4 linked regions of the Homo sapiens genome follow. The protein of the gene in region 4 interacts with the protein of the main gene of each other region in a pairwise test. Each region holds a gene or a part of one and is shown on either strand. Other genes may lie near its edges. The genes, in order: DDAH2, HOXD3, TRIM35 and IGFN1.

Region 1 (6,642 bases), on a different chromosome or scaffold from region 4:
TTGATGCCCTAGGGCGCACCCCCTTTATTTCCCTCATAGAAACAGCCTTCTGTAAATTGTTCCATGACAACCTGTATTTCAATTTGTAAGAAATTTGCATGTACTGTGAGCTCCCCAACGTCAGGAGACTGACCCTTTTGATATCATTGCTAAGCCTCATTAAATGAATGAATGAAAATGAATGTCCCTGGAAGTGTCATTTCTTTTTCTTTATCAAATAGGGGTGGACTGGTAATCTACCAGTCTCTGAATCATCTAACATTTAGATAAATTCAGTGAGCAATCCACCCATACACTCTTTTCTCTGCCCTGGACACACTTCCCATGATAGAAATTCTGTCTTGTTCATCTTGTGCTCAAGTACCTATGACATGGTTGGGCAATGAGTTGATAAGTACCTAACAAGATTTTTGAATAAGAGGCCTTCTTCCCTGCACTGACCCCAAACTCAGGTTTCAGCCCTGCCCTATCCCTTTGCCCCAGTAAGACACCAGTCACAGCCCAGTCTAAAAGGTCAATTCTATTTTATTGGTTCTGAGAGGGAGGATTCACCCAGTGGATCCTTTTCCCTACACTCTCCCCTCCCCCAATATTGAGGCTCTCTCCCAACTACTGCCTATTCAGCATTCTCTATCTAACCCTCCTTCCCCTTCTACTTCCTATACTATCCTACCCCTGGCCAGCAGTACCCCAAGGCCAGGCCCTCAGCTGTGGGGGCGTGTGCTGAGCACCAAGCAGAGGGAGCTGAGCCCGGCGCCAGCCTTCTCCAGTTCTGAGCAGGACACAGGTACCAGGGTGACATCAGAGAGCTTCTGCAGTGCCTGCACAGGGAAGACATGGAGTGGGGAGAGGGGAGTGAGACCTCAGGCTGAGCCAGGCCACTCTTCCAGCCAGCTCAGAGTGGCCCCACCCAGGCTTCTAGAGAAGGTACCCTTCCTTCCTCCCACTAGGAAAGCCTGAAACTCTTTTCTCTGATGGTGCTTGGTGTTGGAGTTCCTGCCCTCTCTCACCTCCTGGCTGTTGGGCAGATCCCCACCTCCACGGTGCAGGAGGAAAGGGGGCACACCAGGCAACCCAGGACGAAGAAAGAGACAGTCAGCAGCTGCGTCATCTGGGAGGGTCAGGGAGGCATATGGGTGATCTGTCAGCACTGCCATTGCCTAGAGGAAAGAGGAAGTGTTCGAGTCTCAGAACCTCTCCACAGCTGTGTCTGCCTGCTCAACCACCACTAAGGGCTGGGGACGGACTGACATTTGTGGAAAATAATGACAGCAAGCACATAGAGCTTACGATATGTCAGACACTAAGTACTTTAGTTACCTTTGCTAATTTCCACCTTGGAATCACATGCAGTTATTTTCAACCCCCTACCTTCCCCAGCCCCTCCTATCTGTCCTACCCATCCTTAGAGTCACAGTTTAGGTGCCACCTTTGGGGTTTCCTGAAACTCCGGAAGAGCAAATTAATCACCCCTGTTCCCAGTCCTGCTGTTGTAACTTCTTATTTTCTCCTGTGTTCTTTCATGTAAGATGGACAGCCCATTGAGGGCAGGGGTTAGGGCTAATTTCCTAAGCCTCCCAGCTCCCGGCCTCCCGGGCCCAGAACTGCGCCCACTTTCGTTGGCCCCGCCCCCTCCTCACCCGGACAGCCTTTTGGGCAGCGTCGCTGCTGCCTGCCACAACAGTGCGAGGTCCCCCCATGCCGCAGAGACCGCGCAGGTGGGAGGGACCCGAGACTGGCACAGTGGAGACGGCGAAGTCCTAGGGAGAGCGAAGGGAGGTATTCAGGGGCGCGGGAGGGGTGATGGGGTATCTTCAAACATAGGCTGCTCTCTGCCTCTCATTTCCTCAGCGGGCGCCCAGGCCCTTCCGACCCCCACCTGCACCCCCTCCCTCCCTAGGCTGGTCCCGCTCCGCACCCGGAACGTGTCCGCCACGATCTCAGCTCCTCGGTGATTGGTCCATTTGGAGAGGCCTACGAAAAACTCCCGGCCTGAGTCCGGGAGGCCGCGGAGGTTTGAGGGCGGGAGTGAGTTAGAAACAAGGCTCCAGACGGCCGAGTCTCCCAAACTCTACTTCCCTGTGCCAAGACCTATGCCTCCCCCCAGCCTCACCGGTGAAGAGAACGTCAGTGCCATCCAGCGTCGCGTTCTCGTCTCCTATTTCCACAATTCGGAGCCCCAGGTCTTGCAGGGCTTTGCGGACTCCATCGACCTTAGGATAGGAGAAGAGGGCACGGAGCTGTGACACCCCCATCCTCAATTCTTCCCCAAAGCCCCGACATCCAGTTCCTTCTGCCTTTCCCCATACCACACCCGCGCCACGGCGCTCACCTCTGGCCTACGAGCGGGGCTCCAGGGCCGCGTGATTAGGGCCGTGTCCCCTTGGATCACGGCCGTGTCGCCAAGCAGCGGTCCCAGCGGCAATGACTCCTCAGGTGGCAGTTCTAGCAGCTGTAGCCCCAGTCGTTGCCTCAGTTTACCTCCCAGCACCCCGTGCTCCCTTTGAGCTTTGGCCAGATCCAGAGCGGGAAGGCCAGCCCCCGCACCTTCCCCCGACGCCAGGCTCTCTGGGACTCCCCGGATCAGGGCATGGGAGCAGCGGCCCAGCCCCTCCCCCGGCGTCCCCATCCCATCCACACAGACTCCCCCTCCAACCGCTCGGATTTCTTAGTTTTCTTGTTTCTTCACCTGTCTGGGAGAAGAAACAGAAAAGGAGGAGACAGAGAAAAAGACATGCAGACAAGGGCGTTGGGGGTGGTTAAGAGCGCCCAGGTCTTCCTCCTGCCATCTCTAGGCGTCCCTCCCACTCCGCCCCACCCACTCCAGACCTTCCGCTCCTGTCGACCTCACTCTACCCAGCACCCTCAGGGGTCAGATTCTTTAAGAGGAGCCTGAGGAACAAGGCTAGGGTCTCTAATCTCCAAAACACCTGTTGCCCCTGCTTGGGGGCTTGTGAGGTCCCTGTCGGGCGCCCCTCTTGGCAGCCACTAGGATGCGCTCACTCCCCAAAAATGCAGCAGCCCCGCCCCCTTAACCCTCAGCTGCTCGCTACCGCAGGGACTGGAAGTCCAGCCCGCGACCCGCAGGGGTTATGGGACAGAAGGAGAAAGCTGGAGAGGCAGGGGCTGGGGAATGGAAGTCCTGAATACCCGAACGAGAAGGGAGAGAGGTGGGTAGGAAGGGAGGAGTTCGAGCCTAAGGAGTTAAGCATCCTCTCTCCGCCCTGGCTGGTCACGCTGCCCCTAGCGCGACCTAGTATAAACCAGACCGAGTCCCGAAGGACTGGGAGAGGTCTAAAACGAAATGCGAGGGGCGGGGTAACAGGGGGCGTGGTTCCGGGGCGCTGGCACTACTCCCGGCTCCAGGACCCGGTTCCCCGTCTATGTCCCAAAGTCCACCCCGCCTAGCTCCGCGCCCAAATACCGGCTCCCCATACTCTCTGTCTGGTGCAGGCATGGGCCCGGCACCCCCAAACTCCGGCCCCCACACGGTTCAGGGCCCCCCACGCAAGACTCACCTCCAGCGGCCACCCCCACTCCTGTCGCGCTGTGATCTCGGCTGGGGCCCCACCCCCCGAGGACAGAGTTGGTGGAGAAGGGAGTCCCCGTCTTCAAGCCTCGGGGACTGGGAGCTCTGGCTTTTAGCGCGGGTCCTTGTGTAGGCGAGCTCATATACTACGATGGGGCAGGGGCGCGACGGTCTGGCGGCTCCGGGGCATTGTCTAAGCGGGACGGGGCGGGGCTTCTTCGGGCCACGCCCATTCCGCCCTGCTAAGCCTCGCCCATTACATCCAGACTGCGCCCCCCTTGCCAGAAATCGGCACCGCCCAGCGAGCGCTGCCCAGGCCCACCCAGATCTGGCCGGCCCTGGCGACGGGGCTGCAAACGCTTCGTAGACCTCAGAACAGCGCAACGGCGGACCGGCGGACCGGCACGAAACATAGCAGCCCCACCACAAACATTTCCCTTCTTAATTCCTGGCTTCTGCCCTGAGCTCAAGATCACTGACCCACCCCTCATTCCATGTCGCCCACACTTTAAATCCCCATTGCGTAAAAACACTTGATTTTTATTCTGTATTTTATTACTGAAATATGTTGTCCTACTCATCCCACCCCACAATAAAAATCTGACCCAGGCCCCCCATTTCTTTCCCTCATCCCCTCTTCCACCACACCATCCCGGAACAAGTGCTCCAGGATTCCCTGCCCACTGGCCATTTTGGAGTGTGTCCATTGGGTAGCAATGTGGAAACCACCAGGGCCTTTGTGGAGAAAATGGAGGGGGTTGAGGGAGTCCCAGGAGGGGCTTATTTGAGGGCCTTTGCCACTTGCTCATAGGCGAGCTCGATCTCCTCATCATCTGGACAGGTGGAAGCGAATTCTTCCCGGGCGTAGGCATTGCTCAAGTACCGATGCACTCCCCGGAAGGCCTCGGGGATGGTGAATCCCCGGTACTTCTTACACACCACCTGAGGATGGGGAGAGGAGAGGGACCAACATGTTAGACCCAGGGAAGCCACCTTGGCTTTCCCTTCTCCCCAGGCCGACATGATAAAACCAGCTCAACTCCTCACTGTCTTGTACTGTCGTTAGCCTTCCTTCTCACTTACTGAAATCCTGGCTTTTAATAACCAGCCATTTTTCCTGAGTTTTTAAAACTTGAGATATAATTTACTTATAAAATTCTCCTCTTGAATTTCCACAGTGACTTTTTCCCCCTATACCACTTCAGGCACTGACACAGGTGACTTTTGTCTCTATATTTTTCATCAGACTTTTTTTTTTTTGAGATGGAGTCTTGCTGTCACCCAGGCTGGAGTGCAATGGCGCGATCTTGGCTCACTGCAACCTCCGCCTCCCGGGTTCAAGTGATTCTCCTGCCTCAGCCTCCCAAATAGCTGTGATTACAGGTGCCCACCACCATGTGCGGCTAATTTTTGTAATTTTAGTAGAGATGGGGTTTCACCATGTTGGCCAGGCTGGTCTCGAACTCCTAACCTCAGGTGGTCCACCAGCCTTGGCCGCCCAAAGTGTTGGGATTATAGGCGTGAGCCACCACGCCCGGCCCATCTGACTTTTCATCATATATTCTTAACTTTCATGTGAATATTTTATTGTCTCAGATTTCAACCCTTTGAGAGCAAGGCCCAGTCACCATACACTTGTGTATCTTTCAATGCTTAGTACACAGATGTTCACTACATAGTTGTGTGGCAGACTGATGTCAGGCCCATGTTGCACAAACTAAACCATAGCTTTGAGACTATGACAAAAACATGGGAACCAGCAGTTTTGATCTTCCACAAGAGGAAGTGAAGACTGAAGTTATAAAGAAAGTTAAAGCTTTGACTTTAGGAAAAGCCTGCTCTGTCTAATCTGGGAATTTGGCAGTGATACCGAGACAGGAAGAGCATTCTTCAAAAGTAATACTGGGATGTATTCCTCTTTGCTAGTCTGTTTGCACCCATGACTTACATCATGGAATATAATTATCTCAAGCAGTGGTCTTGTTAGCAATGACTGCTGCAAAGGACTGGGGTGGGGTCTGCCATTGGTAGCAATTTATGAAAACCACCCTAAGAAAGAAATCGTCTTTAGAGTGGTTGTCAGGGGAAGCCCATGTGGGAGCTCCTTAAAGGGCCACTCCAGTGGTCATCCTCTCCTCCCGCAATAACCACACACCTGTACTATGTGTAACTTTGGCAACAGGTTGCAGTCAGCCAGGGTGAGCTCGTTGCCATCCAAAAACTTCCTCTGAGAGACACCTTCATCTTCAGCACTGGTTTCATCCACTTCTTCTGGGAGGGGGGATGTTAAGTAATTGTCTAAAACCTTCAGGGCTTTCAGGAGTCCCTTCTCCAGATCTGTGCAAGAGAGGGAACTGATTAGAACTTCAGGAAAAGATTGACATAGTCCGAAAAGGCCCGTTGGGGGTGGATACTAATGGTGAGTCCAAAATAATAATAGCTAACACTCATGTAGTTACTTTTCTATGTGTTATTCTAAGCACTTTACATTTTATTTTATGTTAGACGGAGTCTTGCTCCGTTGCCCAGGCTGGAGTGCAGTGGCATGATCCCGGCTCACTGCAACCTCTGCCTCCTAGATTCAAATGATTCTCCTGCCTCAGCCTCCTGAGTAGCTGGGATTACAGGTGCCTGCCACCACAACTGGCTAATTTTTGTATTTTTTTCAGTAGAGACCAGTCATGTTGGCCAGGCTGGTCTCCAACTCCTAACCTCAGGTGGTGCGCTAGCCTCGGCCTCCCAAAGTGAACACTTTACATTTTACAAACTCATTTATATCGCCGGGTGCAGTGGCTCACTCCTGTAATCCCAGCACTTTGGGAGGCCGAGGCAGGTGGATCACCTGAGGTCGGGAGTTCAAGACCAGCCTGGCCAACATGGTGAAACCCTGTCTCTACTAAAAATACAAAAATTAGCTGGGCGTGGTGATGCACGTCTGTAATCCCAGCTACTCAGGAGGCTGAGGCAGGAGAATTGCTTGAACCCGGCAGGCAGAGGTTGCAGTGAGCTGATTGCACCACTGCACTCCAGCCTGGGCGACAGAACGAGACTCCATCTCAAAAAAAAAGAAAAAAAAAAATTTATATCAACCCATGAAATAGGTATTGTCATCC
Region 2 (7,023 bases), on a different chromosome or scaffold from region 4:
TTCTAAAATTTCCAGCTCCCGGACCAGTCTGGCGGAAGGCCCAGCCAGGGTCAGAGGTCGTTGTGGGGAGAGACTCTCAACGCCCCCAACCCACTGAGGGCGGCCAGGCCAAGACTGAGTCGGCCCGGAGCTGCGAAAATGTGTTCTTTCCTTCCGCCCCACACCCATCCGCGTCTGCCCCAGGAATGGGGCCCAGGTCCCAAGCCTCCTGCGCCCTTCCTTCCAGCCCCCAGGCTTGGCTGCGCTCCGGGACTGGGTGGCGTGAAAGTTTCAGCCTCAATCAGTACAAGCTTCCCTCGGGGTCACGTGAACAAATATGCTTGCATTTGAAGGCAGCGTCTGTATTTCCCGACTATGAGGGGGTTTCCGGGGCTCTCTCCAAATCCAGAAACGACCACGTTCCGCAAGCAAAACAAATCCCAAGCTCTGGGGGGCCTGGGAGGGCTGGGCAGAAACCCAGGAGTGGGTGGGGGCGCGGGTGGCTGCCGCTCTGGGCCCGAGAGCGGACGGGCGGGCGGGTGGACCGATGGGCGCGCAGCGCAGGCGAAGCCAGCTCGGGGACTACGAACTCGTTCCTCCTGCGTTTATTGGTAGTTGAACCTCAGCCTGGTTCCGTTCTACCGGGAATTCCGTGTGCTCGAGTATATGGCCGTGTCTGCGAGCGCGCAAGACCAGGGTTGGGACAGTGTTGTCTGCAGACAAAGGGGGAAGGCTAGCTCTGCCCCCCACTGGCGCCCACTCTGAGGCCGAGGACACCAGGTTTATGATAAATTGGGATCCAGGTAAGCAATTGCATGACAAAATGGAAATCTTTGGGCACGGGGCTGCTTGCCGCCCTGAGCGGGATATTAAATATGATTTATTTTGTGTAATCTGTGATCTTGATTATTGCCAATTGGTGAGGCAGCCCGCGTAGACCTAGATACACTGCTACATATACATGGAGGACGGTGATTAATCGTAACAAGGCGCGCTTTGTGGGGACGTTCCCCGCCTACCAAAGGGTTAGGAGGACACTACCTTGCCAGGCTTGGAGGGTGGCCGGCAGCATTGGGGGTGGTAGTAGCAGTTTAAGGAGGGGATCTGGTGAGGGGATTGAGTGCTGGAGGAAATATTTGGGGGCTAAATGTGCACTTAGGAGAATGGGCTGAAAAAGAAATTAAAACTTTTTTACACTTTACTGCCAAAGTAAGATGGAGCGTCATATTAATTCTGTGTCTTGAGCTGCCGGGCTGGGTGCAGGCGGGTTGATTTATATGTATTTAAAATAAACTCGGTGGTCAGCCAGCTCCCTGCATTGTTCCGGTAGCGAGCTCCACACACAGCCTTTACCTCTTGCTGTTGGCTTAATTTTTTCTTGGGAGATTAAAACGCTACTGAGCTTTTCCTCCCAAAATTTGAGAGAACCTCCAAACTACCCAGAAGAGTTTGGGAGGTTCCTCCACATTTCCCTTTACCAATCCAGGCTTTTGATTGCCGTAGTGGCAGAGAAAAGGTTTAGTGTTTCTAGGTCCTTCTCCCCAAAGAACCCTGAATGAAAGCTAAATCATATATTGGTTCACGAATCCCATCTCTCCTTTTGTTTACTTGCTCCCTGTGGCTACTGGCTGGGAGAGGAGAAGACAACCCATCCCGGGTCTTTCCGTGCCAGGGATGGAGTGAGCAGCTCCAGGAGCTCCAGTGAGTGGTTCCATGCTCGTGGTAATGCCACTGGGCCAGACCCAACCGGACCTTTATGGGGAAAGAACCTCAAAAGCAAGGAGCATTCCCTTAGCTTAGGTTGGGACAGGCCCTAGCAGGAGAGGAACCGACTTCCAGGGGCTTCGCCATCATAAGAGAGCAGTAAAGTTGTTTTGTCAATCTCCTGCGCTTGGCTTCATCAGAACTGAAAGTCGCTGGACATTTTTCTTTGCTAGCTGCCTTGAAGCTGCGCGCCTGCCAGCTTAGTCAGCTGAATCCAATTACCGCGAGTAGCATTTCATTTGGCCCCATGGAGCATTCACTTATAACTTCCCCCGAAAATTTCAATAATCCCTACCAAGGCTCCACGCTGGCCCTATCCTAAAGAGTTTTCCTAGGGTGCTGCTGAGGGATGAGGTGTAGGGTTGGGGCTGCCTGGACTCAGCTCTTCCTTGACAGCTCACGGACGCAGCTCCTTCCTGCTCTTCCCGTTTTTGGCTCCAGAAAGAGCACCAGTGCTGGTGGTCCAAAGCCAGCCCGGTTAAGGCTGAGAATCTGGGCAAACAAGGAGCCAAAGTTGGACCCGCGTGGGATGGTGGGTGGGCAGGGTAGGGAGCGTGGGAGAAGGTGCTGAAGGCTTTTCTGGTGGTCCAACTTTGGTTAACTTGGGGTCCTCTTTCCTTTCTTCTTCCCAAGCCTCTTACGCCAAGAGCTCAAAGCGCACCGCGCACCCCGGAACCCCCAGGCGCAAACTTACCCTGTTCCTCCGCGGCTGGAAAAAGAAAAATCTAGCTAGAGGCATAAGGGGGTGGCGGCCCCGGGTGACCTCCCAACTTAGCTCTTCTTTTGAGGGGATGCTCCTACTTCTAAAGAACTCTTTTTTAAAAATAAATAAATAAAAAATAATCAAGCGGCGAAAGTTGACGTCCGCCCACGTGAATGTATTATATAAAGCAGCTACAGGACCAGCTGGCTTGAGAGCCCTGGTACCTCGGGCCTCCACCGCACCACCCTCAGGTCCCGGCCCAGCCAAGAGCGCTTGGGGGAGGGGGGCGGGCAAGTGGCTTTTCCCCCTGGGTCCAGGCCGGCTGGGAAGCTGAAGCCGCAGCGCGAAGTTAGGAGCCCTACCGGGCTGGGATCTCTTCGAGGCGCTTCTGTTGGGTGTTCATTAAGGGGTGAGTTATTGCGGTGCGAGCCAAAGGTCACTTCAAAGGCTTATGGCTGCGCGCTTTAGTCTTTAGAAGCGCCGGGAACGCTTTGTGTGAGGCTTTCCCGGGTGTAGTTTAGTGCTCGCAAACTACTGAGTCGACAAATTGCACAGGGCAGATGCAAGAGGGGGACTCTGTCTCTCTCCTTTCACCTGACGGGGGGTGGTCACCCGCTGAGCGGTGACAGTGGTGGGGGAGCTTGGTCTGTGGCTTTGGGTGGGGGTGGAAAGGATGTTTGTTTCTTAGGCGATTTGCAGTCTGATCCTGACCCAGAAGTGGGCAGCCCAGGGCCAAGAGTGTGGTGGATACTTACCGGAATGAATAAACTCAGGGAAAGCATCTGATATATTTAATGTATAAATCAGGAACTAGCGCCCAGGTCCTCTTCACTGAGGCTCTGTAGAGCAGCCCCTGACCAAGATCCACCCAAGCCTATTTACCTTCCTTTCCTGGTGCCCTTTTCTGCAGCCTCCCCTGCCAAACCCCCACCTTAATTCTGCACGGTCTCTCTCTTCTGCCCCTAGGAGAGTGTTTGGCTTCCGGGATTGGGACCTGGAGGAGCATTTAGAATTTGGTAGGGGCAGGAGGAGAGCAGATTGGCTTCCCTGCACCTCTGACCCACCTGGCTAGAGGGTCTGGCGCTTCCCTCACGTCCGGGCTCTCCCCTCCCCCATCCAGCCATGGATTTTGGCGTTAAAGGGGCCCTCGCTCCCCAGGAGCCAACTGAGTCTGTGTTTTGCCGGGGAGAAGGCGTCTGGATGGTCACGGGTACCATATACAATAGTCACATTGACTATGACGTCCTTCAAGTGGGAAAAGCCCTTCAACATGTAAGTGTTTGTAAGCAAGAACCGGCTGCTACTGAGAGTTTTCCATTTTGTTCCAGATTCGCCTCCACAGATATCAAAAGAAACCTGAAGAGCCTACAAAAAAAAAAGAGATAAAGACAAAATTCAAGAAAACACACACATACATAATTGTGGTGAGTGGGCATCATTTAAATAATAATTTCCAGTACATTTCCCTCTGCAACTCAAGGTGGCCATCTCAAAATTCATACATCAAGACATAGAACAAAGGGCAGCTTTGAAGTGGGTCACTTCAGTATGAAGTACCACCCGTTACATGAAAACCGATCATTGGCCTTCAAATTTATGGCGCTTTAATGGGGCAAGCCCAGTGCCTTAAATACAGGGTGCATTACAGTATTGAGTTATCTGGGCTAAATAAGAGTGATTTAGAAGGCGCGTCCAGGTCTTCTTATAGAGCAAAAGAGGCTCAAGCTTAGAGATCGGGAGAACTTGGGCGGAACGTAAAGAAGTCTCCTTTCGAGCAAACCCAAAAACCAGTGGTTTCGAATCCCGAAGTAGCAAAGCCAACAGGAAAGGGAGAATCGTTGCTCGGTTCCAGTGAATTCGTGGGGATGCTCAGCAAAAGTCTTGGCCGCCAGAAAGAGATCCGTGGGCTTCTGACCCTGGTTTAGGCAAAACAGGGGGAGGCGCCGAGACCAGCTCGAGCACTAGCGGATTTTGAGAGAAACTGACCGCAACCTCCATCGCCTTCCCCCTCTCTTTCAACTTGGATGGGCTGACTCTACCCGTCGGTGATTTACGACGATTGCAGCGCTAGTCACAGCCTGGCGCCTGGTGTCCCCTCCCTTCCCAAGCCCCCTCAGCTTTTCCACTGCCACCGGCGTACAAGCAAGTGCCGAGCCGGCCTCCGCAAGTCGGACTAGCCTCCCGGCGTCCGAGGCCACCACGGGCAGCAGATTTTTGGTCCCCAGCGAGGCTGCGCGCGTTCGTCCCGCCTCCGACCGCCGAGCAGAGCTGCTAGCAGAAGCAGGCGCCGGTCACTTTATATAATCCTGCTGCTCGCAGGGTGCAAGAGCGGGAAAAGTGCGGAGTAGGGAATTCTTTTGCTGCGCTGCCTCCTACGCGGAGCCTGCTTTCCACTGCTGAAAAGTGCCGGGCCTTGGGAAGTGTTTTTCTTTTCATTCCTTACCGAAGCGTTTACTGCCGCCGTGGTCGCAGTCATAAATTTTGCTACAAACCACAATGACAGGTGCATTGATATGCACCGTGAGAGCTCCAGCTGCTTAATAACCCCGTCCCCTGGTCGCTGTGAGCGCCTTTTATTTATTTGGTATCATATTAGGTATTGATCTCTAGTAGCATTAAGTGCGGTGAGCAAGTATCAGGGTTCGGCTGCTTTGGAGGCGCAGCGGTTGCGGCGGGCCGGCGGGCCCGGGGAAGCGGGCGGTGGCCGCTCAGAGAATACCTTCCTTCCGGCAGGAGACCGTTTGGCCCTGTATTCCGGGCCTGCGGTTGGGCCTCCAAGCTGAGTTGGGCAACTTCCCAGCACCGCAAGAAAGGGCGAGCCAGACCTATTTGGCACCCCTTTCCCAGGAGGAGCAGGGGATGGCGCCGGCGGAGTTTGGGGAGGCTGCCCTGGCCAGTTCCCCGGGCTAGAGGGTGGAGGAGAGGAGGAGGGAGAGGAAAGGGCAGCTGAGGACTTGGAAGAAATGAGAAGCCGTGCTCGACCACCCCTCCCCCAACACTGGCTCATCTTCACCCCAAGACATTTGGGTCTTGGAGCCCAAATGAGCAAAGGTACCAAAGGGCGAGAAAAGAAAGGCTTTAAAAAAAGGGTGAGGGGGTGATCGAAAAGATGAGCCACTGAACAGTTGACCATTGTCCAAGTGATTTATGACCCGTTCCTGCTTTTTAGGTTCAAGCAGAGTTCACAAGGAGTAGGGATTTCTGAAAAGAAATAAGCCTTTTTACCAGTTTTGTAACTATATTCTCAGGTTTTGTTTTAAGAGGGATCACTTTTGGGAAACTGCATTTTTGGGGGACTGCAAAGCCATTTCCAGTAAGGACAGCACCATCACTGGCTCTTGCTTTTGGGGAAATGGACATTAAGGTAGTGGATTGTCATTGAGTGGGAAATTTCTTGAGACAATGTAAACAGTTAGGAAAACAGACTCTGGTTTTTCAGGAAGATGCCCAATGTTTGTACTTTTGAGGTCTGTACACAGAACTTTTTCTAGGAATATGCCATAGAAGCAAATATATATATAAAGCCATCTGTCCCAGAAGAACTGGTCAGTTCCTAAGTAAGCTATTTTAACGTGACTGGTTCACCTATCTAGATCAACTTTGTCAACTTGGGAGGCAGGAGGGTGAATGTTTTGCTTCCACAGTTGTAAATGGAATGACAGAGCAGCAGCAAGTTCTGGTAGTCTGAGTGTCCGATGTGACCATTAGGCCTCCAGAGGGTTAAGACTGAAAGCAGGATACCAGAAAAGCCTGAAACATAACCAAATCCAGAGTGCCTCTTTCTTCAGCAGGGGGCAAACATATGTAAGTATTAGTCACAGAATGAAGACTTAGCTGTCCATTTGATATCCAGTAACTTTTAACAGAGAATGATATATAAAATTAATCAAAAGAAAAATTAAGTCCAGCTTTGTTAAGTAGATATCCTACCTACATACATTTAAGAACAATAATGGAAACAATTTCTACAACATAGTATCTTGGTATTAAGGGCCTGTTCCTCATCAAGACAAATGGCATACTCACTTATATTCTAAAACAAGACAAAACAAAAAGGGCAACAACACTACCTACCAAAGACTAATTAGAAGAATTTTAAAATTTGGGTTAGGCTGTTTGGTGCAGGTGGAGGGAAAACTAGTGAATCATTCTGGTACCTGTGGTCAAATCCATTAGGCCACATAAGCTGTCTAGATGATGTGGTACATCATGATGACCAGGATGGAAGCCAGGGAGAGTTTCTAGGAAGGAAAGTTGCCTGAAAGACAGATCAAGAATTGAGACCAGGGAGCTGACCTATGAGTTTTCTTTATCAAACAGACAAAGTGATTGAATGGTATTAGTTATACTTTAACTCTTTAGGAGCCTTTCAGAAGAAGTAGGGAGGCAGGGAGAGAAGGGAAACCCCCATAAAGAAGGGAATACAAAAGGGGTAGGATTTTTCTTAGCTTTTTTTTCTTCTTCTAATTCTGGGTCCATTCATCATGTCATGAAAGGTTCTCTCATTGGTTGTGGTTTGGGTGGGAGGTAGGGTAGAATAGATTATCCAGAGCAGATGTCAATAATATCTATTTATA
Region 3 (7,430 bases), on a different chromosome or scaffold from region 4:
TGTGAGCATTAAATTTGTTGACGTGTGAACACTGAAAAGCATCTAGCACACAGTGAGCACTGAAATGTGTTAGCTGGGATGATTTTGACTTTGCTGTTCCTCACATAGATAGTTGGCAAAGTAATCTTTCTCTAAAACACACATCCCATCACAAACTCCCCTGTTTAGAATCTTTCAGAGCTCCCCACAGCACAAAACGGAAAACCCCCTCAGTGAGGCACACAGCTTCTTACCCAGTCCCTTCTTACCAAGTGGTGGAGGGAATCTTCCCATACCGCTCCCCCACAACCACCTACCTTGAATCACACAGAACTACATCTTGTCTATTGACTGTCTATGCCCCCTGCTCAAATGAGAATTCCATGAAGCTAAGAAGAGGCCACAGCACACAACAGCCATCAGTACCCATTTGTCTAGTAAATGAGTGATTTGCACCCTGCATCAGGCTGACCACACCTGGCTCTCATTCTTCTCAGATCCATTTGGGACTAGACTACTCAGCCCCTGACATCATCCTGAGTGTCCACTGACTTGACACCATCATTCTTCTGCTAAAACCCCCAGCTGCTGTTCACAGCAAGGGTGAGCCACCGGCCTCCTGGATCCTCCTGCACGTCCCTCCTCATTCTAACTACCCTTAAATTCCCTCAGTGCCTAGAAAGTCAGGCTTTCCCACTTCTGGACCCTTCCAAATGCTGCTGCCTCTATCTGAAATACCCTCTTTCACCTGGCTAACACCTCCTCTTCCCTCGGGTCTCTGCTGGAAGCTCCTTGAGGCTGGAAATGGTCTATCTTGTCTCCTGCAGTATCCCTGGGACCTTGCAGTACCAGGCATCTGCTGGTGCATGGCTCTCTGCTCTTGAATCCTGGCTTGGCCCCAGCCTGGGGGCTCTGCCTGGGTGTTCTCAGCCCTGACCCCAGCATCTCCTGATCAGCACCTCGGCCAGCCAAATAGGCATCAGTCATGACCTGAACCATGATCCCTCCTTTACCTGGGCCCCAGACCCCTGGCTGGCCAGCACTTATTCCAGCTGTCCCAAATCAGGATCTGTCACTTCTGCCAGTGGAAACAGGAAAAGCATTGACATGGACCCATGTTAAACAAAAAAGATGACAGGAGTAACAGGGTTACTCATTGAGACATGCGTACTGACAGCATCCTTACATTCCCCTTCAATTAAACTTTGTCAAATGCATTTGGAGCGGAACAGACTTCCGTATTTAAAAAGGTATTGCAAAAAAAGAAGGCAGGGCCACAGAGGGGGCCAGAAACCAGGCACAGGGGACTCGGGCAGCTCCTCCTCTCCAGTCCATGCAGCTTCGGGCCAGCTACCCAGTGTTCTCCCAATTGGGGCTCTGACTCATGCATTAGCAGGTGATGAAATAAATTCAATGTTTCACATTCTGGGTAATTTTTAAAAGTAACAGAGGCCAGGCGGAGTGGCTCACGCCTGTAATCCCAGTAGTTTGGGAGGCAGAGGAGGGCAGATCACTTGAGGCCAGGAGTTCCAGACCAGCCTGGCCAACATGGTGAAACCCTGCCTCTACTAGAAATTAAAAAAAAAAAAAAATTAGCCAGGCGTGTTGGTACATGCCTGTAATCTCAGCTACTCGGGAGGCTGAGGCACCAGAATCGCTTGAACCCAGGAGGCGGAGGTTGCAGTGAGCTAAGAGCACGCCACTGCACTCTAACCTGGGCGATAGAGGTCTCAAAAAAAAAAAAAAACAAAGGGAAGTAACAGAAAATATCAGAGTGCCATGGACATGTTCAGAAAACTTTTGTTTCAACTGATACATATGTTCTGGGTCACAAGGGAAAATGCATTGCTTCCTATGGGCTAAGATTAAACGTTTTGGAAAATGCTGAGTTAGGCTAACCCTTATCTTCTATTCATTTTTCCTTCCTATATCAAAGAATTCTCCATGTTAGTTTTGCCCTGTAAGTTGCTCCTGGGTTTATGTATAGTCACTAGAACTCTAGATATGGAGATGCTGCTTTATAAACCAGAATAGGCCAGCCAGCCAGGGTCAGAGACCTCTCACTCAGATAATACAAACCGCGGGATCAGCTTGGCAAGTAGGTGACTGGTTTGGGGGAAATCTTAAGACTCCACACCCCTGGCCAGGTCTGTGGCTCCTCCTCCACTTCTAAATTGAGTGTGCCAAGCTACAGGGCTCGTGGGCTGCACCCACATCCGTGCCGCTTAAAGGGACCTGGGCCACACCCGGCTGGCACAAGGGGTGCATGGCCTGGGCCCTTCAGAAGCAAGTGTCGCTGTCTTGGGAACATCATGTAACCTCATCTGTCACTTTCCGTTCGCATTCTCTTCTCCCAGCACGGGCCCCTGGGCCGACCTTGAAGAAGCAGCCAGCCCTGAGAACCTGGGTCGGAGAGGTGGGGTCCTGCATGCTGGGAGCGAGACGCGGGCACACTGGGCTCTGGCAGGCAGGAGGGGCGGGAGCCGCAGAGCCAAGGGATTCCGGGTTCCAGACCCGGCTCGGCCGCCTCGTGCAAATCGCTGCTCTTACCCGAAAGTCGTGGGCAGTGTCCTTCACCGGCTGCACGCGGTGCCCCTGGTGTCGGGGGTCGGCCTGGCAGGAGCAGCACAGCAGCTCCTTGTCCTCGAGGCAGAAGAGGCTGAGCTGTCCGCGGTGCAGGCGGCAGACACGCGAGAAGCGGTAGCTGGTCCAGCGCGCGCCCTCGGCCTCCTCGCGCAGCAGCTTCTCCACCAGGTTGTTGAGGGTGTGGTTGGTGCGCAGGTCGGCGGGTGACGCGCGGTCTTTGCACACTGGGCAGGTGGGCGACACCTGCACCTCCCAGCAGCGGCTCACGCACCCGCGGCAGAAGTTGTGGCCGCAGCGCAGAGTGACTGCGTCGCGGAAGGGGTCGTAGCAGACGGCGCAGAGCAACTCCTCCTTGAAGGAGCGGGAAGGCCCGGGGGACACGTCGGGACTCCGCTCCATGGCACGAGCAGCCGGCTCGGGCGCCCGGAACTTTTGCTCCGGCCCCTCCCACCCGCCCGGCTGCCAACGCCCGCGACCCGAGTGCTGGGAATCGCCCAGTCCCTTCCCCTGGAACGCTGAGAGACAGCGGCGCTGGCCAATCGTGCGGGGGGGATGGCGAGGGGGAGGGAGGGGGCGCTCGGAGGAGCCCCACCCACTTCCGGTGTGCGCGGGAAATCTTGGGAGAGCGGGGTGGGCCTTCTGCCCGCAGTTCCCGCCTCCTCAGGTCCGGGCGGGTCCCTGGCCGGGGTAGCACGGAAGGGTCTCCCAGGCGGCGTAGTAGGGCTTCCGTGTTACTGGAAACCTACTTCCGGCTGCAAATGGGAAAAGGAGCCTCTACCTTAACCAATCCCCGGGAACCTCAGGCCCGCGGATGGGAGAAACCAGAGATGCCAACTTCCTGCTTCCGAAGTAGTGGCTGGGTCTTAAAGCACCGTGAGTGCAATCACCACTTAAGTTTGCAGCGCCTTTTTGAGGACCTATGCCACTCTTGCATTAGTCGTTTACTTATTTTGGCCAGTCTTCTTCTGGCCCGCCGCGGTAAGGAGAAACAAGAGAGGGGTGGCGGCAGAAGAGCTCCGAGAAAACCTGATTCTTGTCCTGTGGTTGAAAAAGTGAACAGGTCATCATGTTTCAAAGTCCATTTACTCATGAGTACAATGGCTGTAATAGCTCTGTTTCCATGAAGTGTGAGGATAAAGTGAAATAAATGTGGAAAGTGCTCATGACAACCACTGTTTTAATGGGCAAGTGCCCATTAAAACAGTGAAATTGAGGACTTCTGCAAAGTTTAGCTGAGATAACTAGAGTTCATGCTCAATTCTTGCCAGGTACAGTAGGCCTGGATGGTTCCTTCAGATCTTCATTCCTGCTTCAGTTTGATCACTTTACAGCCTCCAGATGCAGAATACTTTTCACACGATGCACTTTCATTCCTTTTCTATTGGGAGACAATTCACATGTGTCATGTTCCTGCATGTCTTGAGAGAGCAGAGGCACTGACTGCCTTTTTCCAACTATCTTTTCAAGGATGTTTCTGCATTGAATAGCCCTGGAAGACAGAATTCTTGTCTCTCCAAAGATCTGGCAGACTTATTCCCAATTATAAGAGATGTGAGTTTCCTAAACTTGGGGCCCCTCTCCTGTAATGCAACCTACTGTAGCCTTCATCACATAGTCTTGCAAGAATTAGGGCTCAGAAACTGGCCCAATGACAATACTGTGACTACTATTATTGCTGTTAGTATTATCCTTTGTCTCTGACCCAGGAGTTTCATCTTTTAGCAGTATTCATGAAATTTTGGCATGCAAACTTGTTAGTGTTGAAACTCAGAAAACAATACCCCAAAATGGCCTCAAAAGCAGAAATTTTTCTCTGCCCTCCTATCTCTCAGTCCCCCAAGGATAGCCATAGAAATTAGAATTCCTTTTCCCCAAGGCAGGTCATAGAAACCAGAACCCCTTTTTCCTAAAGCCAGTCTTGAAACCTTAAAATATTACTCTTTCTCTCTGCCTTTCTGTGGAATAACTGGCCATAAAGAAATTATCTGACCTACCTTGTTTGACTGTAGGCCATAAGAGCCCGATTCCAGAGAGGGTCCTACCCCATACCTGTTAGGGGTAGAAGGTGTCTGAGTTAACAGCAGTGAATCTGTATGGGTCTGCAGCAACCTCAATTCTTGCCTCCTTGGAAGAAAGAATTAGACTGAGGGGCATGATATGGTTTGGCTGTGTCCCCACCCCAAATCTCATCTTGAATTGTAATCCCCATAATTCCCACGTGTCAAGGGAGAGACCAGGTGGAGGTAATTGAATCACAGGGGTGGTTTTCCCCCCATGCTGTTCTCCTGATAGTGAGTGAGTTCTCACGAGATCTGATGGTTTTATAAGTGTTTGGTAATTCCTCCTGTGTTCATTCTCCTTCCTGCAGCCTTGCAAAGGAGGTGTCTTGCTTCACCTTCACCTTCCACTGTGATTGTAAGTTTTCTGAGGCCTCGCCAGCCATGCGGAACTGTGAGTCAATTAAACCTCTTTCCTTTATAAATTACCCAGTCAGTCTAAGGCAGTTCTTTATAGCAATGTGAAAATGGACTAATACAGGGCATAAGGCAGAAAAAGCAACTGAGGCAAGTTTCAGAGCAAGAGTGGAAGTTTATTAAAAAGTTTGGGACAGAAAAGAAAGTACACTTGGAAGAGACCCAAGCGGGCAACTTGAGGGACAAGTGTGGCATTTAACCCTGATCCTGGGACTTCATATGCTGGCCCACTTCTGGAGTCTTGCTGCCCTCTCCCTTCATTCTTCCCTCAGTGTGAGCTGCCCGAATGCACAGTGCCCTCCCTATGCTTGGGAGGTGAGCATGCACCATGTGCTTAGGAATTTGTACACATGCCCATCTGAGGCTTTCTTCCCTTTTCCAGTGGAATGCCCCCGGAAGGTCATACTCCACTATTTTGTCTCTTAATGTGCATGCCCAAGCTCACTCACCCAATTTCTGAAATTTTATTGGAAGCTGATTACCAATCTCAAGTGTTTTTATCTGTTTGGGAAATTGCCTATGCCTGGCACCTGCTTTAATATCAATTAACATCAAGTAACACTTTAGTGACAGCTGTGGACCATCAGGGAATTGTCTCTCTCCCTCTCTCTGGCCCATCTGCCAAATTATCCATTTTAGAAAGGCAGTGTGATAACTGTGAAACCATCACCTGGCATTCTTGCTTGAGGGGATTGGGGAGGGTAGAGTCCTCTCCTGCCCTGCTCATGCCTGTCTAACTACCTGTAACATACCTGGAAGGAAGAAATGCATGTTCGTAGAGGCCAAGAAAAATCTAGACAGACAGGCCTAGGTTCCCCACTCAGTTTATTAACATTAGCTCATACCCTTTTGTTCAATCATATTTCTACACAGCTACTCATACTTTGCTGAACCTAAGCATGAAAATGAGCCATTTCCAGTCTATCTTTAGGTCTTCATTCTGAAGGCTCCCATGTCACATAAAACTATGATCAGGCCAGGCATGGCGGATCGGGCCAGGTGCCAGTGGTGGCTCACACCTGTAACCCCAGCACTTTGGGAGGTCGAAGAAGGCCTTGAGCTCACAAGTTCAAAACCAGCCTGGGCAACATAGCAAAACCCCGTCTCTACAAAAAATACAACGGGCGCGTGTGGTGGTGTGCGCCTATAGCCTGAGGCAGGAAAATAGGGTCTGGAGGCAGGGAACATAAGGCCAATTCACACTTCAGCTGCGACAGCAAATATCCTCCCCATAGGGCGTAGGCCAAGTAAATAACTTTGTAACTTTACTTCATCCTCTCCATTTACATAGGGCGTACCCCAGGTAACCAATGGAGTCCTCCAGAGGGTATTTAAACCCCCAAAAGTTCTGTAATGGGGCCTTTGAGCCCCTATCTCAGGCCGGTTCCCACACTGTGGAGTTTACTTTCATTTTCCATAAAACCCTTCATGCCTTCCCTGCTTAGTTTGTGCGTTTTTTCCAATTCTTTGTTCAAGATGCCAATAACCTGGACACCCTCCACCATTAACAGTCCCAGCTACTCTGGAGGCTGAGGTGGGAGAATCGCTTGAATCCGGGAGGTGGCAGTGAGTCGAGATTGTGCCAGTGCACTCCAGCCCAGGTGACAGAGCCAGACCCTGTCTCAAAAAAATAAATAAACTTCTATCCCTTTCCTCTTCTTAACCTTTTTGTCAGTGATTTGCAGTGAAACTTCAAGGGGCAAAGGAGACGTTTTCCCTTGGCCCACACATTAGCTTGCAAGTAGGGTAAAATCTCAGACCTTTAAAGTTCTTAATAATTTCTTTCCACACTTTTCCTCAGCATAGTCCTTTCCTCACAATGACAAGGGATGAATACCACTAACTCTAATTGCCTTCAGTGTTTCTTAAATGTGGTTCATGGTTCTCCTGCAATTACCTGGGGAGTTTTCTAAAAGCAGTTTCCTGGGCCCACTTTAATCTACTCATCTCTCTTGTGGAAAGTGAGGCCCAGGAATCTTCATTTTCACTTGCATGCTAGGTGATTCTGAGGTGCAAGAAAGTTTGAAAGCAATTATCCTAGATCTATTCACCCAACAAGTTGTTGGGTCTCCAGCTATGGTTGGTTAGTGGTTCAAAAATTAACCTTAGAGGCAATATCCAAAAAAGCCACAAGATGGGGCTAACAACGCTACACTCCAGATAGCCCTCTCCCCTCCCCCCAACGCAGAGACTCTTACGTCGTCTCATTCTCTTTCACTGTGTTCTCTTATCTCTGTGTCCCAGTTGTGTTGTGAATCGATATGTGTTGCTGTCTATGTGTTTCATTCTGTTCTTACCTGATCTTCCTTATTTTGTTGGGTCTTTTTTTTTTCTCATATTCTGAATGGGGCCACAAATCAAAAACAAGAAGGAAGAGTAGAAATTGTATCT
Region 4 (7,023 bases):
GCCTTATGAAGTAAGTACTATTATTTGTCCCACTTTATAGATGAGGAAGCCAGACTGTTTGCCAGCTTGCTTGAAGTCTTATAACTGGTAGTGGCAGAGCTGGGATCTGAAGCCAGACTTAGCTGATACTGAGCCCCATGCCCTGAGTCACTGTGATGTCTCTTGGGGTGACAGCTTTAATGGAGGACAGAGGATTGTGCAGGGAGACGAGGGCCCCCTTCTGGTTGGGATGAGACGATGGCATTTGTACGAGGCCTTGAAGGATGGGTAGGATTCAGCAGGTATGGGTATAGAAGAGGCATTTTGGATGGTGGAAGAACAAGGGGTATGCTGAGGGGCATAGGATACACATCATTTAAAAATCCAATTTTATTTTAAACACACCAAGTTATTGGCTATTTAAACTTCTCCTGAGGTGGATACATTAGCAAAATGAAGAATGAAAAATCTTTCTTTCAAAGCCTCTACGCTCTTGCCCCTCTCTGCTTTACCTCTGTCCCTCCCACTGGTAAAGAGAAGGTGTGAGGGGAGGCAGTACCTTGACGCCATCCTTAAACCAGGTGCCAGGTCCCAGGTCACTGGTGAGGGTACAGGAGAGTGTGGCGGCCTCCCCCGGCTGCACTTCCATGTCAGCCAGGCCCTGGGAGAAGTGGCCCATGGGGCCTGGAGAGACACAGAGGGAATCCCCAGGGCCGAGCGCCCCAGGCCATGGCCTGCGCTGTGCCCCGCAAGGCCACCATGGTCCTGCCAACTGGGCTTGGCTGGTGTCAGCAGGGCTGGTTCCCAGCACCTATGCTATCTTGGCTCCAATGCCCTGGTCTTCCCAGACAGGAGCCCAAGCATTGCTGCTTTTCTCAGCAGGACCTAGGCTGGTCCAGGAGACCTGGGGTGTAAGGTATATGAAGGGCCCCCCCGCCACAGGTGAGAAGTCTGGTAACCCACAGAGAGTTGGGTCAACAACTCTGGTGCTGTGGACATAAGGTTTCAAGAGCAGATACCTAGGAGACCTCTGAGCCTCTCACAGGCTGGACCCCATCTGCGTAAAGAGGAAGAGGTTGCTTCCTAAATTTGCAAAAGATTCCTGAGAATGGGGAGCACTGGCAGGGACAAACTCCTGGGGCTGGAGGCAGAACTGGGACAGACCCAAGCATCCCAGTGGCCAGGGAGCTCCCCACTGTCTCTAGCCCATGGGAGCCAGCTCAGCAGAGAAGCACCTACCTTGGGCATCCTTGGAGAAACTGCCAGTGCCAGGCTTGTATCTGGATGTGGAACTCCGGGTAGCATCTCTCCTCTCTCCATAGATGTCCAACCTGCCGTCTTTGCCACTTCTCCTGCTACCAAGGTGACCAGGGGGCTCCCGGCTCTGATCTTCATTCAGCATCTCCTCCAGGCACCCCCAGTTCTCTCCCATAGGCTGCCACCCCATGCTTCCAGCCTCGTCTGCTCCCCTTCTCTTTCCTCCTCCAACCTCAGCCCCTGACTGTGCCTGAGACCTGCTCCTGAGTGAGCCAGGCCTCCTGCCTGACCTCCCAGCCTCTTCCACTCCCTGCCCTTCATCCTCCTTTAGGGCCCCAGGACCCTGGACCTCACCATTCTCAGCCTCCAGGGACCCCTGCTCCCCGAGGGACCTCTTTCCTCCTCTCTGTCCCTTGCCTCGCTGAGAGCTCAGGTCCTGGGTCCCTCCTGACCTATCTCTAGAGGCTTTTCTGCCAAAGGGACCATCTAAGCCATTCCAGGCTCCCTGAGGTCCGGACTCCCCAGGTTTTGGGGTGAGGGCATTCCCCCACTCAGTAGAATTCCCCTTGCCCAGGATACCTGAGTCCTCTGCATCAACAGAACTGCCCCTTCCAGGACTTGAACCTTTGCTATCCAGGGACCATGGGCTTCGGCATCCACCAGCCGCCTCTTGGCCTGGTGCACCCTCCCCACCCTTAAAGCCCCCTGGCCCTTCATGGGTCCCACCAAAAGCGGCATCTTTCTCCTGCAGAGAACCGGAAGCTCTGGAGCCTGCGGGCTGCTTCCCAGCATCTATGCTGCCTTGGCTAAACCCCTGGTTTTCCCAATCAGGAGCCCAAGCATTGCTCGTCCCTTGTCTATCAGCAGGCCCTGATGTTGACTTGCCCCTTCCCCCAGGCATAGAGCCGCTGTCCAGATCCTGACCTGTCCCCACTGAACTCCCTGAGCCTACCCTTCTGCCTCCCAAAAGTGAGTCCCCACCTCCCTGAGATGCCAACCCCCCCTGGCCAGCAACTCTACCCCTGTCTGTCATTCCTGGGCCTGCTTTCCAGATGTCCCGTTCATATCCAGACCCTAGAGCAGCCATTCCTGCCCAGGTCTCACCTTCCACTGCCCCCTTGCCATCAAGAAACCCAGAAGCCCCCATTATCCCTGCTTGGTCTGGAGACCTATCCTTCACCCTGGGAGCCCCTCTGTCTCTAGAAGACCCTGGAGTCCCAGAACTGTCTTGCCATTCTTTGACATCTGGTTTTCCCTTGGCACCAGCAGCCTCCGAGGCCTCAGGGATCCCTGAAGTTCCATAGCCCCCAAGATCTTTGGTGGAGCCTCGCTCATCTGAAAGAGTCTGTCGCCCTCCCTGAGACCCCAGCACCCCTGTGCCCCTGAGGCTGTCTCTGTGTGCCATGCCACCTGCAGTGCCTGGCATTCCAGCCATCCCAGGTTCCACCCCAGGTCCTGCCCCATCCACAAGCCTGGTTTCCCTGGCTCGCTCTGGACCATCCTTGGAGTTCGTGTCACCCTCTGATGCTACCCAATATCCTGACCTGTGACCCATGGCTTTATGGCCTCTGGGTCCAGCCTCATGTCCTATTCCAGCCAGTGAGCCTGGTACTCCAAGCCTCCCTGAACCATCTCCATAACCCATCTTACCCTCTGGTCCCGTTTCCCCAGATCCTCCTGAGCCTCCTCTATAACTGACCTCACTCCCTGACCCCATGCCACTAGTTCCCCCAAAGCCTTGCCTAGAACCTGCCTCATTCCATGACAAAATGTACCCAGAATCCTCCAAACTACCCCTAGAACCTGCCTCGCTCCCTAATGGATTCCTCCCAGAACCCCCTAAAACATTCTTATAACCTGCCTCATCCCCTGAACTGATTTTTCCAGAACTGCCTAAACCATTCCTGTAATCTGTGTAACTGCCTGAACCCATTTCCTCAGGAGCTCCCAAATCCTTCCTATAATCTGCCTCATCCATTGACCCCATTTCCCCAGAACTCCCTAAACCATCCCTGAAACCTGCCTTACTCCCTGAACCCATTCCCTTAGGAGCCCCCAAATCCTTCCTATAACCTGCCTTATTCACTGACCCCATTTCTTCAGAACCCCCTAAACCATCCCTGAAACCTGCCTTACTCCCTGAACCCATTCCCTCAGGAGCTCCCAAATCCTTCCTATAACCTGCCTCATCCATTGACCCCATTTCCCCAGAACTCCCTAAACCATCCCTAAAACCTGCCTTACTCTCTGAACCCATTCCCTTAGGAGCCCCCAAATCCTTCCTATAACCTGCCTCATTCACTGACCCCATTTCTGTAGAACTCCCTAAACCATCCCTAAAACCTGCCTTACTTCCTGAACCTATTCCCTCAGGAGCCCCCAAATCCTTCCTATAACCTGCCTCATCCATTGACTCCATTTCTTCAGAACCCCCTAAACCATCCCTGAAACCTGTCTTACTCCCTGAACCCATTCCCTTAGGAGCCCCTAAATCCTTCCTATAACCTGCCTCATTCACTGACCCCATTTCTACAGAACTCCCTAAACCATCCCTAAAACCTGCCTTACTTCCTGAACCTATTCTCTCAGGAGCCCCCAAATCCTTCCTATAACCTGCCTCATCCATTGACCGCATTTCTTCAGAACCCCCTAAACCATCCCTGAAACCTGCCTTACTCCCTGAACCTATTCCCTCAGGAGCCCCCAAATCCTTCCTATAACCTGCCTCATCCATTGACCCCATTTCCTCAGAACCCCCTAAACCATCCCTGAAACCTTCCTTACTCCCTGAACCCATTCCCTTAGGAGCCCCCAAATCCTTCCTATAACCTGCCTTATTCACTGACCCCATTTCTTCAGAACCCCCTAAACCATCCCTGAAACCTTCCTTACTCCCTGAACCCATTCCCTCAGGAGCCCCCAAATCCTTCCTATAACCTGCCTCATTCACTGACCCCATTTCTACAGAACTCCCTAAACCATCCCTAAAACCTGCCTTACTTCCTGAACCTATTCCCTCAGGAGCCCACAAATCCTTCCTATAACCTGCCTCATCCATTGACCCCATTTCCCCAGAACTCCCTAAAGCATCCCTAAAATCTGCCTTGCTCCCTGAACCTATTCCCTTAGGAGCACCCAAATCCTTCCTATAACCTGCTTCATTCACTGACCCCATTTCTCCAGAACCCCCTAAACCATCCCTGAAACCTGCCTTACTCCCTGAACCCATTCCCTCAGGAGCCCCCAAATCCTTCCTATAACCTGCCTCATTCACTGACCCCATTTCTACAGAACTCCCTAAACCATCCCTAAAACCTGCCTTACTTCCTGAACCTATTCCCTCAGGAGCCCACAAATCCTTCCTATAACCTGCCTCATCCATTGACCCCATTTCCCCAGAACTCCCTAAAGCATCCCTAAAATCTGCCTTGCTCCCTGAACCTATTCCCTTAGGAGCACCCAAATCCTTCCTATAACCTGCTTCATTCACTGACCCCATTTCTCCAGAACCCCCTAAACCATCCCTGAAACCTGCCTTACTCCCTGAACCCATTCCCTCAGGAGCCCCCAAATCCTTCCTATAACCTGCCTCATTCACTGACCCCATTTCTACAGAACTCCCTAAACCATCCCTAAAACCTGCCTTACTCCCTGAACCTATTCCCTCAGGAGCCCCCAAATTCTTCCTATAACCTGCCTCATCCATTGACCCCATTTCCCCAGAACTCCCTAAACCATCCCTAAAACCTGCCTTGCTCCCTGAACCTATTCCCTTAGGAGCCCCCAAATCCTTCCTATAACCTGCCTTATTCACTGACCCCATTTCTTCAGAACCCCCTAAACCATCCCTAAAACCTGCCTTACTTCCTGAACCTATTCCCTCAGGAACCCCCAAGTCCTTCCTATAACCTGCTTCATTCACTGACCCCATTTCTCCAGAACCTCCTAAACCATCCCTAAAACTTGCCTTACTCCCTGAACCCATTCCCTTAGGAGCCCCCAAATCCTTCCTATAACCTGCCTTATTCACTGACCCCATTTCTTCAGAACCTCCTAAACCATCCGTAAAACCTGCCTTACTCCCTGAACCTATTGCCTCAGAAGCCCCCAAATCCTTCCTATAGCCTGCCTTATCCACAGACCCCATTTCCCCAGAACCTAAGCCACCCCTATAACCTGCTTTGCTCCCTGAACCCCCTCCCTCAGAAACCCCCAAATCTTTCCTATAGCCTGCCTCAATTAACCCCATTTCCCCAGAACCCCTTAAACCACCCCTGTAACCTGCCTTGCTCCCTGAATCCATTCTCTCAGGAGCTCCCAAATTTTTCCTATAACCTGCCTCATCCATTGACCTCATTTCTCCAGAACCCCTTAAGCCATCCCTATAACCTGCCTTGCTCCCTGTGCCCATTCCCTCAGGAGCCCCCAAATCCTCCCTATAACCTGACCCCATTTCCCCATAACCTCCAATCCCATTCCTATGACCTGACTCATCCAGTGACCCCATCTCCCCAGGACCCCTTAAACCAGCCCTGTAACCTGCACCCATTCCCTCAGGAACCCCCAAATCTTTCCTATTATCTGTTTCATCCATTGACCCGATTTCCCTGGAACCCTTTAAACCACCGCTATAATCTGCCTTGCTCCCTGAACCCGCTTCCCTGGAATCCTGTAAACCACCCCTATAATCTGCCTTGCTCCCTGAACTTATTCCCTCAGGAGCCCCTAAATCTTTCCTATAACCTGCTTCATCCATTGACCCCATTGCCCCAGAACCCCCTACACCATCCCTATAATCTGCCTTGCTCCCCGAACCCATATTCTCAGGAGCCCCCAAATCTTTCTTATAACCTTCCTTATCCACTGACCCCATTTCCCCAGAACTCCCAATACCCTTCCTACAACCTGGCCCATCTGCTGATCCCATTCCTTGGAGGCCTCCTGAACCATCTCTAAAGCCTGCCTCACCCCCTGGCCCTGTACTCCTAGGCCCAAGGCCCCTTGACCTTTCTCCATAGGCTGTTCTGACCCCAGTTCCCTGAGGCCCTGGAAGTTCTGATCCATCCTCATAACCCAGCACATTGCCAGCCCCATAAGCCCACTGGCTCCCAGAAGCGGCCCCATTGTGAGGTGCGAGTGACTCAGGGTGCCTGGTATCATCCCTATAACCAGCTCCAGCTCCAGAGGCCTTAGCACCAGGGCATCTTGTCCCATCCCCCTCACCCACTTTGCTTCCTGCCCTCAGAGACCCTGGTCCCATGGCTCCTGGACCCCCAGAGCCATCTTCATAGCCTCCTTCTCCAAAGGCCCCCAGGGCCTCTGAGGCTCTGAAGCCCCCATAATTTCCAGTCTGACCCCAAGGCCTTATTCTTCCAGAGCTCTCTGGTTCTGCTTCCACACATCCCATCCCAACAGTCTCCACTACTCCAGGGGCCTTGAGACCACCTCTACCCGCAGACCCTGTCACCCCAGGACTCCCTAGGCCACCATCTGAATGGTGCCCTCCCCTAGGGTCCATGCCTGCCTGGCATGCAGAGGCCCAATTCCTGGTGTCATTCATGGGTGCTCCATCAGGACCACCTGAGCCATTTTTAAGACTGGCAACTCTCCCAGACCCTCCTCCTGCAGGGCCAGAATCTTCATTTCCAGACCACACTCCCCCAGGCGCTCCGGAGCCATGCCTGTACCCACCCCCTTCCTCAGACTCCACTCCCGCAGGTGCCCTAGGGGAAACTCTACAACCAGCACCATGGCCGGACCCCATTTCTCCTGGAACCCCTGAGCCAT

Evidence for each region.
Region 1: the proteins of IGFN1 (region 4) and DDAH2 interact in binary tests that used the Homo sapiens proteins (3 or more experiments, as listed by UniProt).
Region 2: the proteins of IGFN1 (region 4) and HOXD3 interact in binary tests that used the Homo sapiens proteins (3 or more experiments, as listed by UniProt).
Region 3: the proteins of IGFN1 (region 4) and TRIM35 interact in binary tests that used the Homo sapiens proteins (3 or more experiments, as listed by UniProt).

What each region holds. Positions count from the first base shown.
Region 1 is NC_000006.12:31,726,533-31,733,174, forward strand, and holds DDAH2 (putative hydrolase DDAH2), read right to left. Parts: upstream 2,768-6,642; 5' UTR 2,630-2,767; coding exon 2,333-2,629; intron 2,214-2,332; coding exon 2,114-2,213; intron 1,993-2,113; coding exon 1,919-1,992; intron 1,761-1,918; coding exon 1,641-1,760; intron 1,161-1,640; coding exon 1,011-1,160; intron 822-1,010; coding exon 705-821; 3' UTR 508-704; downstream 1-507. Other genes in the region: CLIC1 (chloride intracellular channel protein 1), read right to left, coding at 4,310-4,471, 5,685-5,866. UniProt on the Homo sapiens protein: Putative hydrolase with unknown substrate. Does not hydrolyze N(G),N(G)-dimethyl-L-arginine (ADMA) which acts as an inhibitor of NOS.
Region 2 is NC_000002.12:176,160,299-176,167,321, forward strand, and holds part of HOXD3 (homeobox protein Hox-D3), read left to right. Parts: intron 1-525; exon of another isoform or gene 526-782; intron 783-2,656; exon of another isoform or gene 2,657-2,855; intron 2,856-2,861; exon of another isoform or gene 2,862-3,774; 5' UTR 3,775-3,870; exon of another isoform or gene 3,871-5,497; intron 5,498-6,189; exon of another isoform or gene 6,190-7,023. UniProt on the Homo sapiens protein: Sequence-specific transcription factor which is part of a developmental regulatory system that provides cells with specific positional identities on the anterior-posterior axis.
Region 3 is NC_000008.11:27,308,272-27,315,701, forward strand, and holds the start of TRIM35 (E3 ubiquitin-protein ligase TRIM35), read right to left. Parts: upstream 3,002-7,430; 5' UTR 2,965-3,001; coding exon 2,530-2,964; intron 2,396-2,529; exon of another isoform or gene 2,235-2,395; intron 1-2,234. UniProt on the Homo sapiens protein: E3 ubiquitin-protein ligase that participates in multiple biological processes including cell death, glucose metabolism, and in particular, the innate immune response.
Region 4 is NC_000001.11:201,207,817-201,214,839, reverse strand, and holds part of IGFN1 (immunoglobulin-like and fibronectin type III domain-containing protein 1), read right to left. Parts: coding exon 1,219-7,023; intron 664-1,218; coding exon 539-663; intron 1-538.